Linked DNA regions of Homo sapiens: region 1 is linked to region 2. Evidence: fine-mapped expression QTL. A gene starts in region 2. The other region holds a variant in brackets. All regions are shown on one strand. Distances are between the middles of the regions. Region 1 has its middle 19 kb from the start of GPR32. Region 2 holds the start of CLEC11A (C-type lectin domain containing 11A).

Evidence for each region. PIP is the estimated chance that this variant, and not a neighbour inherited with it, causes the effect.
Region 1: its variant is fine-mapped to the expression of CLEC11A in whole blood (TOPMed, PIP 0.97).

The regions. Positions count from the first base shown.
Region 1 is chr19:50,749,482-50,753,862 of GRCh38, reverse strand. No RefSeq gene overlaps it. Among named protein-coding and RNA genes, the nearest start is that of GPR32, 19 kb to the left of the region's middle. The variant T/C (reference allele first, on the strand shown) is at 2,570.
Region 2 is chr19:50,721,554-50,725,934 of GRCh38, reverse strand. CLEC11A (C-type lectin domain containing 11A) reads right to left here and starts at 2,571. Exons shown (of 4, transcript NM_002975.3): 1 at 2,263-2,571; 2 at 1,844-2,030; 3 at 1,334-1,525; 4 at 227-913. The coding sequence starts at 2,409. The coding sequence ends at 468. RefSeq lists silencers at 1,003-1,062, 1,103-1,222.

The DNA of each region.
Region 1 (4,381 bases), 28 kb before region 2:
CAGTACTTTGGGAAGCTAAGGTGGGAGGATCGCATGAGGTCAGGAGTTTGAGACCAGCCTGGCCAACATGGTGAGACCCCCATCTCTACTAAAGATACAAAAATTAGCTGGGTGTGGTGGTGCATGCCTGTAATCTCAGCTACTTGGGAGGCTGAGGCAGGAGAATCGCTTGAACCCGGGAGGCGGAGTTTGGAGAGAACTGTGATCATGCCACTGCACTCCAGCCTGGGTGATAGAGCAAGACTCTGTTGTCCCCCCGTTCCCCCCGAGCCCCCACAAAAAAAGAGCTGGTTACAGGCAGCAGCAATTAGACCGCGTTTGTTGGATCATTTGGTGATCACCCATCTGCATTATTCATCTCTGAGTTCCCTAGAGGCGAGGCTGGTGTGTGGCTTGCTCCTGGCCCCTGGAACACAGCAGGCACTTGGTAAATAATCGATGAGTGATCCATTAAGGAGGGCAATCTCTCCTTTGTCATCTGAGGATGGATTCATTCATTTAGTGTAAAATTATGCATTGAGCCCAAATTGTACACCAGACACTATCCTAAGCGCTGGGGGTACCGCAGTGATGAAGACAGTCAAATACCTCTGACCAGGCACAGTTCACGCATATGGCATGAGAACATTCCTCACCCAGAGGAGGTGGCCCAGAACTTTCAGCCCCTTTTTGCCACCTCTTTTTTTTTTTTTCTTTTGAGATGGAGTCTCACTCTATTGCCTAGGCCGGAGTGCAATGGCACGATCTCAGCTCACTGCAACCTCTGTCTCCTGGGTTCAAGCAATTCTCCTGCCTCAGCCTCCTAAGTAGCTGGGATTACAGGCAGCTGCCACCACACCCGGCTGGTTTTTGTATTTTTAGTAGAGATGGGGATTCACTATGTTGGCCAGGGTGGTCTCCAACTCTTGACCTCAGGTGATCCACCTGCCTCGGCCTCCCTAAGTGCTAGGATTACAGGGGTGAGCCACTGTGCCCAGCCCACTACCTCCTTTTTGTATACCCTGGAGAGTGCCCTTCAACTCTCCTAATCCCCAAGCTCCTACCTCCTGGCTCCCTGAGACACACCCCGCAACGAATCCCGGTCCCGTCACCTTGTGCTGTGTCTGAGGGTGAGGCAAGGTGAGGGGGCTCTTTCTGTCTCTGTCGTCAGTCCCAGGTGGCCGCCAGCCTTGAGCCCACGTTAAAGGTAGGGGGCTGATGGCAGGAAGCTAGCTGTGAGTTTTGGAGCAGATAAACGTCCAGGAAAGAACCTTGAGCAAGAGCTTCAGAGATCGCTATCAGTCCGGGAAATGTCACCAGATGTGGGCCCTAATAATAGGCCCCAGGGGCTGCAGGCTTGGGGCATAAGGAGGAGGCGGGTGCCAGGGAGGTCTTTCCGCAAGGCCATTCCAATTCTCCTCTGCCCTCTTTGTGCTAATGAAATTTGTTAAGAGATACAAAACACTTAAAACTTCTTGCGGCCGGGCTCGGTGGCTCACGCCTGTGATCCCAGCACTTTGGGAGGCCAAGGCGGGTGGATTACCTGAGACAAGGAGTTCAAGACCAGCCTGGCCAACATGGCGAAACCCTGTCTCTACTAAAAATACAAAAATTAGCCAGACATCAGGGTGGGTGCCTGTAATCCCAGCTACTTCGGAGGCTGAGGCAGGCGAATTGCTTGAACCTCAGAGGTGGAGGTTGCAGCCGGTCGAGATTGAGCTACTGCACTCCAGCCTGGGCAACAGAGTGAGATTCATCAAAAACAAAAACAGAACAAAACAAAAAAAACTTCTTGGCACATAGTAGGTGCTCAAGCATTGTTAGGTCTCGTTATTAATACTGCTATAGTCCTGCTTCGATTAACATCAGGAATAAATTCTGAGAGATGTATCCTTAGGTGATTTCATCATTGTATAGATATCATAGAGTGTGCTTACACAAACCTAGGTGGGAGAGTCTGCTACACACCTGTGCCAGATGATCTAGCACAGGGGTCTAGGCCATAGCCCAAATGCGACCATCTATTTATTTTTTGAGACGGAGTCCCACTCTGTCACCCACACTGATTTGCAATGGCACAATCTCAACTCACTGCAACCTCCGCCTCCCAGGTTCAAGCGATTCTTCTGCCACAGCCTCCCAAGTAGCTGGGATTACAGGCATGCACCACCACACCTGGATAATTTTTGTATTTTTAGTAGAGATGGGTTTTCACCATGTTGGCCAGGCTGGTCTCAAAACGCCTGACCTCCAGTGATCCGTCCACCTCGGCCTCCCAAAGTGCTGTAATTCCAGCTACTGGGAAGGCTAAGGCAAAAGAATCACTTCAACCCAGGAGGCAGAGATTGCAGTGAGCCGAGATCACACCATTACACTCCTGCCTGGGTGACAGAGCAAGACTCCATCTCAGAAAAAGAAAAAATGTAAGACACAAACACACACACATCAGCCTAGGCCTATGCAGGGTCAGGATCATCAACGTCACTGTCTTCCATCTCCACGTCTTATCCCACTGGAAGATCTTCAGGGGCAATAACACCCTTGGAGCTGTCGTCTCCTAGGATAACAGTGCTTTTTTCTGGACACCTTC[T/C]GAAGGAGCTGCCTGAGGCTGTTTTGACAGTTAATTTTTCCCTTTCCTTTTTTTTTTTTTTGAGGCAAGGTCCCACTCTGTTACCCAGGCGGGAATGCAGTGGCACAGTCTCAGCTCACTGCAGCTTATGCCTCTCAGGCTCAAACGATCCTCCCACCTCAGCCTCCTGAGTAGCGGGAACTAAGGCACACACCACCACACTGGGCTAATTTTTACATTTTTTTCTTTTTTGCAGAGACTAAGTCTCACTATATTGCCCAGGCTGGTCTCGAACTCTTAGACTCAAGCAGTTAACTTTTCTTTATAAGTAAAAGGAGTACACTCTAAAATAACAATAAAAACTATAGTACGGTGAATAAAGGCCGGCCGTGGTGGCTCATACCTGTTTCCCAGCACTTTGGGAGGCCAAAGTGGGTGGATCACTTGAGGTCAGGAGTTCGAGACCAGCCTGGCCAACATAGTGAAACCCCATCTCTACTAAAAATACAAAAAGTATTCGGGCATGGTGGTGCATGCCTATAATCCCAGCTACTCAGGAGGCTGAGGCAGGAGAATCACTTGAACTGGGGAGGCAGAGGTTGCAGTGAGCCAGCCTGGGTGACAGAACGAGACTCCATCTCAAAAAACAAACAAAGAAACCTATATATAGTAAATATATACACCAGTAACATAGTTGTTTATTGACTTTTTTTTCTTTTTTGTAGAGACAGGGTCTCACTATGTTGCATGGGCTGGTCTCGAACTTCTGGCCTCGAGCGATTGCCCTACTTCAGCCTCCCAAAGTGCTGGGATTACAGGTGCGAGCCACCATGTCCTGCCCGTTGCCATTGACAGGTATGATGTACTGTACACAATTATATGTGCTATGCTTTTCTATGACTGGCAGTCAAGTAGGTCTGTGTACACCAGCATCGGCACAAACATTAGAGTAACGCCTTGAGCTACTCCATTAGGACAGCGACAACATCACCGGGCAATTGCAGTCTTAGCTCCATTATAATCGGTGGGGCCACCGTCGGACGTGCAGTCTGTCATTGACAGAAACCTCGTTATGCTGCACATGGCTTTATTCCCTCGGGAGAATGCTGCGGCCTCAGCAGTAACATTTCACTGACTCTAAGGCACATCATGTCAACAGGTGTCACCAGAAAGACAAGATGTTGTAACCAAGCGAGTTAGAGAGAAATGCCACACTTTGAGACAAATTATGGAGTCCTTTATTAGCCAGCGACTGAGAGACAGCTAGCGCTTAGAATTCTCTCCATCTCGAAGAAGGGGCTAGATTCTCTTTTATACTATGGTCTAAATAGAGGAGGGGGAGTTTAACTGAAGTAGTTTTACAGAAGCAGAACAGGCAAAAAGTTAAAAAATTAATTGGTTATGGAAGCAGTTACAAAAAATAAACAGTTCCAGGTGCAGGGGCTTAAACTATCACTAAGAGATAAATGCAGGGGCTTTTAGGTACCTTCCACCGAGCAGGAGCTGCTAATACAGGCTGCCTCAATATCTTATCAGCAGGTGCATTCCTGGATGTGCTTGGTGTCAGCTTGCACTAGTTATTCCCTTAAGGGGGATACGGGGGGCCCCAAGTGAAGAAACCAAAATGGAGTCTGTCCAGCTCTCTCTGCTAGGAGACAGTCACTCCGGTTAAAACAGGGTAAGGTATCACAAAGACACAGCCTAAAAAATGCAATCCAATGCTTATTTTATTTTATTTTATTTTTTGAGTTGGAGTCTCGCTCTCTCGCCCAGGCTGGAGCACAATGGTGCGATCTTGGCTCACTGCAACCTCCACCTCCCAGATTTAAGCGA
Region 2 (4,381 bases):
ACAGCGTTTGTACGCGTGTACTCCGGCCATCTGTGCACAGAACAGATGACCGTGTGTACATATGCACCTGTGTTTCTCCATCACTCCATCTGGGGCTCAAATGACATCTGTAAAAAGCAGAACAGGCATCCAAAGGCCAGGACACGCGCCCAAAGACCAGGGTCTGGCCCTTCCCGGCTTCCCCTGCAGGAGATAAAGTCCAAGACTGCCTTCACTGCCCCTCAAGTCAGATTCCACAAGGATTTATTGGCACCGGACCTAGCCTGGTGCCCGCCCCTTCAAGGAAAGACACTAACAAGGAGGAGTGCCGGCACCGCAAGAGCCCTCCCAGAAGCGCCCAGACTGGGGGTCGGGGAGGACGCTGCCATTCGTGGCCAGGAAGGGAAGGGAGATTCCGGAGGAGGGTGGGCACGGCGCAGGGAAAGGCCGGGTGGTGGGATGGGCAGGGAGGCGGGGTACCGGCCCCGCTAGAAGGGGAACTCGCAGACGTAGTAGAGACGCCGCTGGCAGTCGTGGTCCCACCAGGAGCCGTCGTCAGAGGCCTGCGCCACGCAGTTCTCGAGCGTGCCACCGTTGGGCTGGTCCGGGCTGAGCGGATGCGGCGAGGCGCTGGGCTGGGCGCCGAGCTCGGGGCGGGGTGAGCGATGCCAGGCGAAGAAGGACACGCGCTGGCCGTTTTCGAAGAGGTAGAGGCCCTCGGCGCGCCGATCGTGCACGCCCAGCCACACGGGCCAGTTGTAGGGAGCGAGCGCCGCGCGCAGGTACCGAGTGAGCGCCTCCATCTGCTGGCGGTCTGCCGGCTGCGCCAGGCTCCCGCCCCGCGCCGTGCACCGCGCCTGCGCCGCCGCCTGAGCTTCGAAGTCGCGCGAGAGCAGGAAGCACTTGTGGCCCAGGCGCAGCCCCTTCAGGCAGCCTGTGGGCGGGGCCGGGTAGAGAAGGAGGCGGGGTCATGCATTCAGAGTCTGGAAGGGGGCGAGGACAAAACATCCGGGGGTGGAGGGAGGCGGGGCCAGGAACTCATGGGGAGGGCTGGGAGGAGGCGTGGTCAGAACCGCGGGAGCCAGGAGGTGGAGAGTCTGGTCCGCCAGGGGCGGGGCCAGGCGGTGGGAGCTGGACTGTAGGGGGCGTGGTGCTGCCCCAGTCGGGTCCGCGCGGGTCTGGAGTGCCCACCCGCTCCCTGCATTCAGCCTCCCAGCTCTCTAACCCCGTCCGCTAGCACACAGCAGCTCTCCCGAACTCTCCCGCCCCGGACACCTAGGGTCACCTTCTCAACCAGTCCCATTCCTGGCCCAGATAGTCTCATTTTTTTCCACCCCGCGCGCCGCGGACTCACCCTCCAAGCGGCCGTGCTCGCGCTCGGCGCGACCCTGCGCCTCCTGCAGGGCTTGCACGGCATCGCGGGTGTCGCCTGCCGCGTTCCGCAGCTGCCGCAGCCCCTGGGTCAGCTCGACCACGCGGGTGTCCAACGCGTGCAGACGGACGTGCAGCTGGTGCAGGCCTGCGTCCAGGCCGGCCAGGCGGCCCACTGCGGACAGACAGGGATCATGCTGGAGGGGGAGCCTGGAGATGCAGCGGGGGGCCTGAGGACCTGGAGAACTGGGATCTAGGGCTCCTGAGGGCGGGGTGGCGGTGGGGGGGGCACCCCGGACTCCTGGAAGGTAGGGTCGAGTGGCCCAGGCCTTTAGGAGGCATGGCCGTGGACCTGGGGCTCCTAGGGGTGTGGGGGCTCTGGGCTGGGCAATGGACAACTGAAAGGCCACTTGGCAGTGAACCGACCCTTCATTTTTGCGAAAGTGACCGCGGCGGCCTAGGAGTTTGGGGGTGAGGGCTTCTGGTTACTCACGGATGTAAGTGACGATGTCCTCAGGGGTGGGAGAGGGGCTGGGGCCGGAGGATGGGGTTGGCGTTGCTTCCTCCTCCTCTTCCTCCCCCTGGTCCTCCTCCATCTCCCAGTCCTCTTTTCCCTCAACAGTTCCGGCAGGATTCTCATCCCCCCTCCCAGCAGGCAGTCCTAGGGCTTCCTGCAGATGCTGGGGCAGGGGAGGGGTGGTGAGCCCCAGCCTGCCACCAAGATGCCCCATTCACCCCTTTCCAACTCATAACTCATTCTCTGCTGCCTGAGTCCTGTCTCTGAGCCCATCACCCTCCCACTCCTCTGAGACTATCCCAATCGCTCCTCATTGTCCATTTCCCTAACCTTGCAATACCCCCTCCCAGACCCACAGTTCACCACCCATAGCTCCCTGACACTCCAGAGCTCACCTTCAGCATCAGGGCCTCCCTCTCCCGCTCCTCCTCCTGGGCACCTCCCCAGCCTCCCTCCCACTCCCTCTCTGCTCCCCGAGCCCCATGGCCAAAGCCCAAGAGCTGGGGGACCACCAAAGCCCCCAAAAGCCAGGCTGCCTGCATTAAGCTGGACTCTTGGCACCCAAAGTTCCAGATGTCTGGATGTCTGGGGTGGGAGGGGTGGCCTCTGGGAACTGCCGAGTGCCCCTGCCCTGTGTGCAGGTCACTAGCCCCCAGGTTCCCGATTCTCCCAGCTTCTCTCTTCCTGTTCCTCTCCTCGTCTCTGTCCGGTCCGTTGGTCTCCTCTGCTTCTCTGTGTGTGTCTCTCCCCGCCCCTCTTGGCTCCCCGGAGGCCCTGCCTCTGTGGCCGGAAACCTCCAACGTTCCAAAGCCTAGATCCCGCCTTGGGTCTCCTCGCACACCCTCCTCTTTCCACTTTCCAGAGCTCGCTTCCGCCCTGCTCTTTCCTTCTGCTGTAGCCCAAAGATCAGATAATCAGGAAGAGGATGGAGCTGGCTCTCCAAGGAATCTTGGAAAACACAGGCCCCGGCCTCAGCCCAGGAACCCGCTCAGAACCATCTCGGCAGTGGTGGGATGCTGGGACCGAGCACTGCTCCCTTCTTCCCTGCCTGGCCATTCCTAAGGAGGGGCAGACCTCAGGGTCTCGCTGAGGTTGTTATTACCCTGTGGCCACCATCGCCTGCACACTCAATGGAGGAGACTCCAGGGCCCCTCCTGCCCCCTAGATTGCCCATCCTACCCTCCAAGCCCTTGTCTGGAGATCCAAGTGAGTGTGTGTGGGGGCAGGGTGACACATGTGAAGAGCACGCGTGTGACTGTGTGCATGACCCTGGAAGACGGGGCTCGGGGATTAATTGGCCACTTTACTAGAAGCCTCCTGCAGGCCAGGCTGTGGGCTGGGTGATGCTGGGGACTCCAGCTGCTTGCAGACCAGCAGCCAGATAGCTCCGGGGATGAGGGGGCTGGAGATGGGAGAGGGTGAGGAGTCTGGCGGAGCAGTCAGGGAAGGTTTCTCCAGGAGGTGAAATCGACAGACGCTAGGTTGTGTGCTCAAGGAGCTCTGAGCATTCAGCAAGCCACCTCATTTCAGCCTGGACCACTGCAGTCTCGCCCTCCCCCTCCTTCCTCCTGAGCCCCTCCAATCCCGGCTGCTTGCCGCAGCCAAAGCAATCCTTCCAAACCATAAATCAGATCACATCACTCCCCACTCCCCTGCTCCCCCACCTTCCCATCATAAGCAGGAGGGAAGCCAAGCCCGGGCCTCAGTCCTCAGCGCAGCCTACCATGCTGGGGGCTGGGAAGGAAGAACCCTTTGCACCTCTGCAGCCTCATCACCCCCATTCCCTTCACCCACCCCCAGCCTCCACCTTCCCTGGCCTCTTGGCTCATCCCCAAATACTAAGCTGATTACAACCTCAGAGCATTTGCACTAGCCCTTTCCTCCTTCTAGAAGCCTCTTTCCCCAGCTCCTTCTCATCATCGAGGTCTCAGCTCCAGGAGGTCTTCCCCAACCACCTTATCTATTCCGCAAGTTACTTTATTAAAATGCCCCATTTCATCTTTTTGGTATAATCAAGACTGGCATGATCTTGTTTGTTTATGTCTGTTCCCTGCCAATGAAAGCAGGGATTTTTATGCACTGATGCATCTCCTAGCACAAGGCCTACCTAGCACATAGTAGGTGTTCAATCAACCTGTTGAGTGGGCGAGAGGGTAGCCGTTCCTGGTGGGGTCAAAGGCCTGGAAGCTTCACCTCTTTGGTTTGCTGGCACCCAAGTTCCCAGGGTGGTGGTGGCAGGGTAGGTAGAGGTGGTGAGGGCAGTGGGAGAGAGGCTTGGAGGCAAGGAAGAACAATGCCATGCCATGCCCCTCTATGTCAGGCCCATGAGTCATGCAGGGCTTTTCCCGCCCAGGCCTGGCTGGTGGTGCCAACAAGCATGGGGCACACCAGCCAAGGATCACTGGGCCTGCTCTTCAAAGGAGGAGACCGAGGCTCTGAAACAGCATAGCCTGCTGGAGGTCACCAGTGTGGCGGCAGCTAGCCAAGGTTTCTGGCTCCAAGAGCAGGGCATCT